2 separate regions of the Homo sapiens genome follow, and region 2 is linked to region 1. Evidence: fine-mapped expression QTL. A gene starts in region 1. The other region holds a variant in brackets. All regions are shown on one strand. Distances are from middle to middle.

Region 1 (5,218 bases):
TCTCTCTTAAATTTGTGGGGTTCTCCGAGGTGACTGTCGATACAGGGGTACAGTAGGCCAACAACAGCTGTTTTAAAAAAGTTGACAATGTTAGAATACAGCAGATTCAAGTTCCAGAATTTCAACGTGGTCATTAGTAACACAGTACATTACTCAAACCAGTCCTTTTCCTAGAAAAAATTATCAGCTATAACTTCAGAGTGATTTTATATTCTTGTTCTCTTTGAGTACCACTCCCACAAAATTGTACTGTTTGGAAAAGTTTTTTAAAAATCACTATTATTTAGTGTAGTTGAACATGTCTCAGTAAACACAGGAAGGAATCAAGCAGGGATTATTCATATTAATATGAGCAATATGTAACCTTATATTTAATATCCACATTTGCCTAAAGCACACAGAACTTAAATGACTATGTAGTTCACCTTGTCTTTTCATCCGGTGTGATTTCTATCTTACAATAAAAAGGTTAGCATCTGTCCACACCCTGTCACATCACAGCTCTGACACTCCTGCCACCACCCAGTACTGGGGCTGGGCACGTGATGAGATACATATTTGCTGATGTGACTTTGACAGTCTGGGTCACATGCTCCTAGAGTGGCCCTGGAGTTGATTTTCGGGGGTTCTAGCATGTTCTGTACGAGGCACTGAGCACCTACTGTGCACACATGCACATGGGCAAGTACGGGGCGAGACAGCCCCACACAGGCTTCGCTTATTCTCCATCTGGTTCCCGCATGGTCAAGCCTCAAGCTGCGGAAAGAACACCAGACCAAGAAGAGAAAACTCAGCCTCAAATCCCAGCTTGCCCTCTGATGGGACGTGGCTCTGCATGTTTGTTTTCTCATGTGTAAAATTATAAGGATTATGTAACTGGGACACAGAGAAAGAGATCACTGTGGTCTGGAATAGTTATTCTTTATAGACACGAACTTGGAATTTGGACAGGTGGGAAGGAATGGCATTCCAAAAGAGAAGTAAAATGGCAAAGATGAAGGCAGGAATGAATGTCTGTAGGGGGGAGTGGGGTGCCGGCCCGTGGGGTTGGATGCTGGGACACAAGGGTCACTGTGTCCCAGGGCTCTTGAGAACCCTGCAATTGTTTCACCTCAGTGTAGTATGAAAGAAATATACATTTTAGGTTCAACTGAGAAACAAGAAACACAGTTTGCATCAAACATTCAGATAAAAAATGTTGTTTTCAATTTATTATACTTCATCAGGTTCTAATTTTGGAGTTCTGAAAAATGGACCCCCCAAATTAACTTTACTTCACTATAGCTTAATAAATAAATAGGTAAAAAACATACTATGAAAAATTTTACTTATGCTCTTGGCTGATGGTTTAAAAAAAAGTAGAATATGAGAGTATGAGAAATTGTCCAGATATTCCTAGAAACCCTTGAGGATCCAATTACAAATACTGAAGGCTAAACTATTTCATTTCTAAGATCAAGTTTTTGGTTAAAGGAAAGAAACTATTCTGCCAAATGTATATGAAACATGGAATTTTAAATCTAGATATAGTTCTCAAAAAATGTTCAATTAGTACAGCCACATAAAGTGTTTCGAAAAACGAAAGAGGATCCCGTCCCTCCGAGAACAAATATGAAAACATTCTACCCACTACTTAATAATTACAGACACCTGTCCTAGTTCTTCAACACGGAGCCCTCTGTTAATCTGCTACAAACCTCTCTGCTGCTTGCTGTTTTCAGTGAGTCAACTGAGGCAATGTGTTTCCACAGTGCAGGAGACACACCTACCAAGGCAGCAGGAGCAGTTACCAACGATGGCTTGGCCCCTTTCTACCTGCGCACCCTTGGATGTGACTTCACCTGTGATTCAGTTGCCACATCTATAAATGAAGCTACACATGGTATTGCTGTAAGGAATGAACACAGCAAAGCATCTGAAGCCTATGGTCAGCAGTCAGCTGACAAACGTCAGCCACAAAGCAAACAGGATGCTCCCTGCACTGCACTGGAGTCACTGACATACTGGTTTGTTTTCCCCACCAGACTCTAAGCTGCTTAAGGATAGGGGCTTGTGGTGCTCACTTTTGGATTAACATTTCAACAGCTTATAGAGTTGAGGTTGCAGAAAGCACCCGACAAGCTCGTTAAATAAACAAATGCTGTGTGACTACAGGAGCAGTAAGTGATCTGCTGAGCCAAGATCAACTCAACATTTCTATAAAAGCGGTTCAATGATAGCCAAGAAAGTCTAGTACACACACCCAGCAGTCCCCGTGTCCACAGTTCAGACTGACTCAGTGTTACGTTGTACAGCATCTATGCTACTGCTTGGGTGTACGAAAATCTAAACGCCGTAAGGGGGTTACTCTTTTCCTTAAGAACGTAATCTACAGAGCTCTAACAGTTCAGGGTGTAGGCGGTTTGGCTTCAGACCACAGTTTACTCAGCGACCCGGCAAAAGGAAGTGCTGAGAAGTTGCTCCCCTGGCAACCGCCTCCTGAACCCATGTGACGGGTTTGTTTTCAGTTATCCAGCAGGGTAGCATGTTTGCTGCCGCGACCAATGGCCTTTCAGTCCCGCTGCTCACCAGTTCCCCAGGCGGCCAATCCGGGGCGGCTGGCGCGGGATGACAGCTGGGGCTGTACCCGGACGCCAGGAGGGAAGGGCCCTCAGTCAGCTTGGCACAGCACCTGCTTGAACAGCCAATTATCTCCCTGCCTCATCTCCATCACTGTGCTTCCTCAAACTTCAGAGAGCTGTGGCCCGAACCCGCCCTCGGGGGTGCCAGGTCCTCTCTACCCCTCCTTCATTTCTCTAAATCCCAAGACTGGAGATGCACACTTTCAATCTGTGGATAGTTCCAGTTTCAAATGCATGTTTCTTATAGGCTGAAAAGTACTTTCAACCGAAAAGACACCCTTTTTACTTCCAGAAGAACCAGGAGGGGTACTCACCAGCTGCTGTCCCGCAGCAGGGAGGGACCCACCAGGCGGAGGAAAAGATGGTGGCGATCACCTCCTCGGGGAAGAGAGTGACATTCCTCTGGATCTGCAGCAGGTTGAGCACCAGGGCTAGGACCACCCCAACCGAGAAGAGCACGAGGCTCCTCTGCAACAGGCGATGATGCCAGGTGTTGGGGTAGGGGCTGCCGGGCTCGGGGCCGCTCATCGCAGCACTGCGGCCCCTGGGCGCGGGGTCAGCGTCCGGGGCACCGTGGGCCGCCAGCAGGGAGGGCCCGGACACGGAAACGTTGATCATCTCCCCAACCTTGGCCGCCAGCCCCGCGGCGCTGGCTCGCGGGGGGCCTCGGCGCCTCGCGCTGTGCGCACAGGAGCAGCTCCAGAAGTGGTCGTGCAATCTGGGCATCGGTCACACGCGTCCAAGAGGCGCTTCCTGGAAGAAGGGGGTCATCAAGTTCACTCAGAAGAGACAAAGAGCGAGGAAGGCCCCGCGGGACGCGAACCCCGGCACCCGGGCCAGGCGGCAGCGCCGCCCCCCAAGGTTAGACCCCCGTGCGCCCGCCCGGGGCCAGCGGCGGACGGGACCCGCGCTCACAGCGAGCAGCATCCCCGGCCCCAGCGGGACCCGCGTCCCAAAGACCCAACAGGGCCCGCGCCCGCCTACCTCCGGGGAGGACCGGCTGCTGCGCGACCAAAGCCCGCCCGCGACCCCTATCCCAGCCGGCCGCGTACCTGGCCGAGAGGCGCCCGCCCGCCGGCTCTCCGAACGGAGGCGGGGCGGGGGAAAGGAGGAGTCACGGCCCGGGACGGCCGCAGCGCCTGGCGGGCGCGCGGGTTTATATGGCGGGCCGCGGGGCCCGCATCACGTGAGCCTGCCCGGCCTACCCACCGCCCGCGCGCACCGCCCAGGGGCGTGGCCTGAGCTTGCCCCGCCCCGCCCGCGAGCCCGTCCGCACGCGGTCTGGTGAGGCGGCCGCAACCAATGGGAGGCCGGCGGCCCATATGACGTGCGCACACGCCACCGCCGGCCCGCGCGCACTCGGGCGGGAGCCTCGGCACGGACTGCGGGGCGCGTGGCGGCTGCGGGGCACGCGGGCCCGAGCGGGACTGGCCGGCTGCGAGTGGGCGGCCGCGGAGCTGGGGCCTGGGAGGGGACGGTCCTGCCGGGAGGAGGCGGAGGCAGGACAGGGTGGGGTTGCGGGCCCGGCGCCGCCCCTCCCGGCTCCTGGCTCCCCTCGCCTGGTGTCCCGCGCCTGGCCGGGAGGCGGCGGGTCTCGATCGCGCGGGCCTCCCTGGAGGGGCGCGGGCTCTGGCGGCGGGGAGGCCCCTGCTCAGCGCAATGGCGGGCTTGCATCCTTGGGTGATTTTTTCGGGCCCCTTGTGGCCTTTGCTCACGCCTAGAGAGCAAACCACCCGCACCACCCAGGAGCAGATAAAATCGAGACCACAGCCTCCAAGGGAGCGCGCCTCCATCCTGTTTGCCCCTCGGGTCGCCGTCTGAGGGCGGGCCCGTGCCCGCTCAGAGCCTACATCCGAGTCGTATAAAGCGCTGACAGCAGAGAAAGCTGCGGCTTTGCTCCGTGCAGATGAGCAGGGGCTGAGGGAGGACGCTGTGCTCTCAGTAGCCGCGCTTGGCCCGGGGACCCTGCAGGCTTAGAAACGTGAGTCACGCCTGCAGCGTGGCGAGGAAACGCCGTTGATGTGGCATCCTCAGCCTGGGGTTGTGGCTTTAAGCCAGAAGGTCAAAAAAAGAAGTCTTCCTGAGCTGAGACTGCCCTGAGTCGCTTTAGGGGCGAAATTCCGAGCATCCGGTTGCATTTCCTGAGGATGACACGCGTGGTGGGTGTGGACGGCCTACAGGGGTCCATCCTCAGCGGCCCCTCTGCAGGGCAGTCTCGCTCTCACTCTCCCAGCTGACTCCTCTCAAGCCTGTTAACCATTGTACACGTTCCCAAGGACTCCAAGCAGGTTGGACTTCAGGGAACATTGCAGTTTGGGTCTTGGCCATTGTTTACACTCCACCTTGCATAAGTGCTTGAGGATCACACAACCAGATACGTAGATCATCCGTAGATCATCGCAGTCACATCGAAGATTTGTTTATAATAGGAAAAAAAAAAGCTACCCACTGTCATGCGCTGGGAAACTAGTGAGCTGAAGGATGACCCATCTGTAAATGGGGTGCTCCCTAATGGACAGGGCACCTTTCAGAAGCCTGTGCTGTGTCTCCTCGACCCCACTGTGAGCTCCCCGTCCCGCACGCTGATCTAAATCAAG
Region 2 (5,479 bases), 41 kb before region 1:
TGTGGAAAGAGGTGATGCATGATTCAAAAATCTATCAACATACCAGGAATTTGGAAGTGGGGAGTGAGAAAGAAGTAGAGGAAAGTGAAGATATTTGAACTATATTGGGCAGTGGGGGTTGGGGAGCTCTTGCTAACAAATATTAAAGAGGCAGATGGTAAAGAATGGTTTAGAAAAATGTCAAGGTTACTACTTTAAAAGTACAGAGAGCTTTCACATCACGAAAGATGATACGAACAAAATAACAGCCCTCCATAGCTTTCTCCCGCTGCCTCACAAAATACCGCAGACTGGGTGGCTTGAACCACAGACACTTATTCCTCAGGCTCTGGAGGTTGGAGGCCTGAGGGGTGGGTGCCAGCATGGCTGGGCTCTCGCGAGGCCCCTCTTCCAGGCTCACAGAAGGCCACCTTCTTGCCCTGCCCTCCTCAGTGGCCTTTCTTGGTGCCAGCATCGGAGGAGAGAATGAGCGAGCTCTCTGGTGTCCCTTGTTATGAGAGCACTAATCTCGTGGGATCAGGGCCCACCCTTATGGCCTCGTGTAACCTTAATGGCTGCCTTACTTCACGTACAGCCATACCGGGGTTTGAGGCTCCAGCATGGGAATTTTGGGGCCTCGCCAACATTCAGTCCATGGGAGGCCCCTAGGACGAAATGCTGGGCTTGAAGGAAACTGCATAAAGCAAAACAGAGACATCTCGGAGCAAGGGAGCTGGGGACCCACAGCCACACAAGGGAGCCGGGGAAACCACAGCCACGCAGACCATTGGTGTTTCTTGTTGTGATCAAGAGACAGAGTTTTTAAAGCAATGTTACACATAAACATCAAAACAATATTGAACTTCCAGGGAAGAGAATGGGTTAAGTGGGTTAGAATTTCCAAGATGTTAGGGGCTGAATTGTGTCTCCATAAATCCAAAGGATGAAGTCCTAACCCCTAAGACCTCAGAAGGTGACCTTATAGGGAGATAGGGTCTTTACAGAGGTCATCAAGTTAAGATGAAGTTGTTAGGGTGAGCCCTAGTCCAGTATGACTGGTGTCCTTAAACATGGGGGACATTGGACACAGACACCCACAGGGAGAGCCCTGCGGGAAGGTAAAAATAGCTGTCTGCAAGCCCCGGGGGGAGGCCACAGAATGTGGCTGTATTTGGAGCTAGAGCCATTCAAGAGGAAATTAAGGTCAAATGGGTTCACTGGGGTGGACCCTAATCCCATAGGACTGGTGTCCTTAGAAGAAGAGGAGATAAGGACACAGACACACAGAGGCATGACCATGTGAGGACCCAGGGAGATGGCATCTGACTGCAAGCCACAGAGAGAGGCCTCGGGAGAAAACAGCCCTGCCCAACCTTGATCTTGGACTTCCAGCCTCCAGAACTGAGAGGAGATACGTTTGTGATGTCTGAGCCCCCTGCATGTGGTGCGTTGCTAGGGAGTGTTTGAAAGCTCTTTCACCACGTCACAGCAGGTGGGTCTCAGGCTCTTGGTTTTCACTGTGTCACAGCAGGTGGGTCTCAGGCTCTTGGTTTTCACTGTGTCACAGCAGGTGGGTCTCAGGCTCTTGGTTTTCACTGTGTCACAGCAGGTGGATCTCAGGCTCTTGGTTTTCACTGTGTCACAGCAGGTGGGTCTCAGGCTCTTGGTTTTCACTGTGTCACAGCAGGTGGGTCTCAGGCTCTTGGTTTTCACTGTGTCACAGCAGGTGGGTCTCAGGCTCTTGGTTTTCACTGTGTCACAGCAGGTGGGTCTCAGGCTCTTGGTTTTCACTGTGTCACAGCAGGTGGGTCTCAGGCTCTTGGTTTTCACTGTGTCACAGCAGGTGGGTCTCAGGCTCTTGGTTTTCACTGTGTCAAAGCAGGTGGGTCTCAGGCTCTTGGTTTTCACTGTGTCAAAGCAGGTGGTTCGCAGGCTCTTGGTTTTCACCATGTCAAAGTGGGTGGGTCTCAGGCCCCTATTTTGCTGTTTTGTGGATTTTTATGTGTGCTAATACATGGAAGAGACCTAAACATACTTTTAGGCTGTGAGGAAGAAGCCAGCAGACAAGGGTAGCCTAAAATACTGGTGAGATGAACCCCATGTGGTCCATCTGCATGGCAGAGGGGTGCTCAGCCACGGGACCCAACCCACGCTGTGCAGCAGAGGAGTGCTCAGCCACGGGACCCGACCCACGCTATACGGCAGAGGAGTGCTCAGCCACGGGGAGGGACCTGAACCACGCTACAGCAGGAGTGAGCTCAGAGGACATGACCCAGTCACGGA[A/G]GGGCAAGTATTGAATGATCCCACTCATGGCAGGTCCCTAGAGTTGTCACATTCACAGAAACAGAAGGTAGAATGGTGGGTGCTGGGGCTGGGGAGGCAGAGTGGGGAGTTACTGCTTAGTGGGTGTCGTTTCCATTTAGGAGATGGAAGAAAGTTCTGGAGGCAGATGGTGGGGAAGAATGCACATTTCTGTGAATGGATTTTGTGCCCTTGAACGGTGCATTCGAAGCTGGTCAATTCTCTGTTAGATACGCTTCACCACAGCCGCAGGAAAGTGACACCAAATGCTGGTGACAGAGTGACACTCCCAGAGCATCCTAGGCAGAGTGGGCACCAAGAAAGGCAGTGAGTTCCCTGTCCCCGTCAGGAAGCAAGGAGGCCGTTCTGCACAGCGGGGTGCTGGACACAGACCTCCGCAACCTCTTCCATCCCTGGGGTCCTGTGGTTCTGTGCCTCACACTGTCCCGTGTGCCTCACACGGGACAGTGGGCCAAGCCAGTCAAACAGATCAGACACAGGCCTGTGCCAGGTGTGTGGCCACAGGCTCAGAGGAAAGAAGACCCTGCGGTCCAGGGATGGGTGTCTGCTGCCACGCATGACAGGGTCCCCTGGAAGTGGACAGGGCTCTGGGCTGCAGCCACAGGCCAGGGTTGGGGCAGCATCCAGCGGACTCTCCTCTCCGTTGTGACCTGGGAAAGCAGGCGTCACAGCCTTTAACCCGCTGCCTCGGGCCAGTATGTCTGCTGGCTCCCTTCTCCGCTGCTCTTCTCCTTCTCTGCCCCCTTCTCCCATCGGGCCCTGTCGCTTTGAAAGGCTATGGACAGTCCCTTTGCTGGGAACGAGGCCCCACAGGCAGACGCCATATTCACAGATGCCTTCTTGGGCCCATTGTGGTCTCCTGAATTGGCTGAGTCTCAAGGCCTTTGATGAAAAGGTAGCTGGAGCAAGCGGCTAAAATAGCAGTCAGTGGCAGCCCCAGAGCGGGGTCTGAAGCTGGAGTGCATGATGGGCGCTTAGCTGTGGGCTTAGAGGGTGGGTGCGGGCTGGTGTGTGCCTGGGCAGCTGGGCGGGGTGTCTCCCCTGACATGGGACAGGCCAGCTGGCCCCACTGCGGCGCGCAGCAGGCCTGGATCCAGCAGTTCCCGTGGGAAGAAGGGGCTGAGGAGGGCCCCTCTGGGTCAGCCCAGGAGGACTCCGGCCGGGTCACACCTCCAGAAGGGACCCGCTTTCTCCAGGCCCCAGAGGCTGCTGAACAGCCTACCCCCTCCCTGGGCTGCCCTGGGCAAGAGCAGCCCTCACCCGTGACAGACGCGCCTGGCTTCCCCGTGTGTCTTGGGAGGCGGGAGGTGATGCTGACCCTCGCTCGGGAGGCGGGAGGTGATGCTGACTCTCGCTCGTTCTTTTGTTGTCCTTATGGTCATCACCGTGGGAAAGACCTACTCGTGGGAGAATAAAGAATCTGCTCCCAACCCCACTCCTGAAATTTAATTTTAAAAAACGTACTCAGGATAAAACCCTTCTTGCTGTCTGAGAGGATGTGGCTTCTCCAAGCACAGCCTGCCGAGGCTCTGTTTGCTGTGTGGGGAAGATGAGCCCGTGCTCGAGGCCGCCCCAGAGATGGAAGCCAGACTGAGCCGGGACTGAGTCTGGTGGCAGCCAGGCTTGGGGGCAAAGACCACCTGGTCTCATTTCTAGTCCCTGGGGCCCCAGGAAAATCCCAAAGGGAGCCAGGGGGCACAGCCATAGCATTCGCTTGCACCTTGTGACATAGCAGTAAGTGTACTTCCTGCAGGGGAAGCCCATGAGAAAGGAAGAAGAAAGAGAGTAAATGAAAGCCACAGAAAGAAAAACTGCAAGGGGGGTGACAGTCCGGGGGTGGCACAGCAAACCACAGCCAGACGGGGGCTGACAACCACAGAGGCATGGCTTCTCACTGTTCAGGGGGCCAAGAGGCCAGCACCAAGGTCTTGGTGAGAGGTGGTTCCCCCTTGGGGGGGCTCTGAGGGCCAATCTTCTCTGTGCTTCTGTCCTGGCCGGATCCCCTGCACGCGCCTCTGTCCCGGCCGCTGGCCGCCCTGCACGCGCTTCTGTCCCGGCTCCAGGCCTCCGTAAATGCACCTCTGTCCCAGCTGCTGACCTCCCTGCACGCGCCTCTGTCCTGGCTCCAGGCCTCCGTACACGCGCCTCTGTCCCGGCCGCTGGCCTTCCTGCACGCGCCTCTGTGGTGGCTGTTGGCCTCCCTGCACACGCCTCTGTGCCTGCCTCTGGCCTCCGTAAATGTGCCTCTGTCCCAGCCGCTGGCCTCCCTGCACGCGCCTCTGTGCCTGCCTCTGGCCTCCGTAAATGAGTCTCTGTCCTGGCCACTGGCCCCCCTGCATGTGCCTCTGTCCCGGCCACTGACCGCGGTATACGTGCCTCTGTCCCGGCCGCTGGCCTCCCTGCATGCGCCTCTGTCTTGGCCGCTGGCCTCCCTGCACGTGCCTCTGCGCCTGCCTCTGGCCTCCGTAAATGTGCCTCTGTCCCGGCCGCTGGCCTTCCTGCATGCGCCTCTGTCTTGGCCGCTGGCCTCCCTGCACGTGCCTCTGTGCCTGCCTCTGGCCTCCGTAAATGTGCCTCTGTCCCAGCCGCTGGCCTCCCTGCATGCTCCTCTGTGCCCGCCTCTGGCCTCCGTAAATGAGTCTCTGTCCTGGCCACCGGCCCTCCTACATGTGCCTCTGTCCCGGCCGCTGGCCTCCCTGCACGCGCCTCTCTCCCGGCTGCTGGCCTTGCCACATTGCTTGGCGTTCCTTGGTTTGCAGCTCTGTAACTCCCCTCTCCTTAGCCACCGTCACATGGCTGGCATCCCTCTGTGTGTCTGTCTCTGTGTGGCATCCCCTCTCCGTGTGTCTCTCTTCTAAGATTGCTGGCATACTGTGCAAACACCCTTCTACTCCATGTGACCTCATCTTAACTAACTGTGTCTGCAAGGACCTTCTTTCCACACAAAGCCACTTTCTCAGGTGCCAGGAGTTAGGTTTTCAAAAAACCTTTTAGGGGGACACAATTCCACCCCAAAAGAAAGAAAGAGAAGACAAGAAACAGCATAAAAAAGAAAGAAAAGAAAAATGAGGGCAAGGGATGCATTCGGTGTGAAATTTCAGCCCAGGACTTTTGGGGTGTATAAGGAGAGATAGAATCTAGTTCTAGGTGGGTCCTTCCTGGGGGCCCTCTATGCTCT

The links. PIP is the estimated chance that this variant, and not a neighbour inherited with it, causes the effect.
Region 2: its variant is fine-mapped to the expression of INSIG1-DT in whole blood (TOPMed, PIP 0.99).

Annotation. Positions count from the first base shown.
Region 1 is chr7:155,296,415-155,301,632 of GRCh38, reverse strand. INSIG1-DT (INSIG1 divergent transcript) reads left to right here and starts at 2,653. Exons shown (of 2, transcript NR_183448.1): 1 at 2,653-3,482. INSIG1 (insulin induced gene 1) reads right to left here and starts at 3,755. Exons shown (of 6, transcript NM_005542.6): 1 at 3,674-3,755; 2 at 2,936-3,374; 3 at 1-67. The coding sequence starts at 3,347. RefSeq lists enhancers at 2,230-2,299, 4,710-4,759 and a silencer at 3,420-4,249.
Region 2 is chr7:155,337,620-155,343,098 of GRCh38, reverse strand. No RefSeq gene overlaps it. Among named protein-coding and RNA genes, the nearest start is that of BLACE, 28 kb to the left of the region's middle. The variant A/G (reference allele first, on the strand shown) is at 2,263.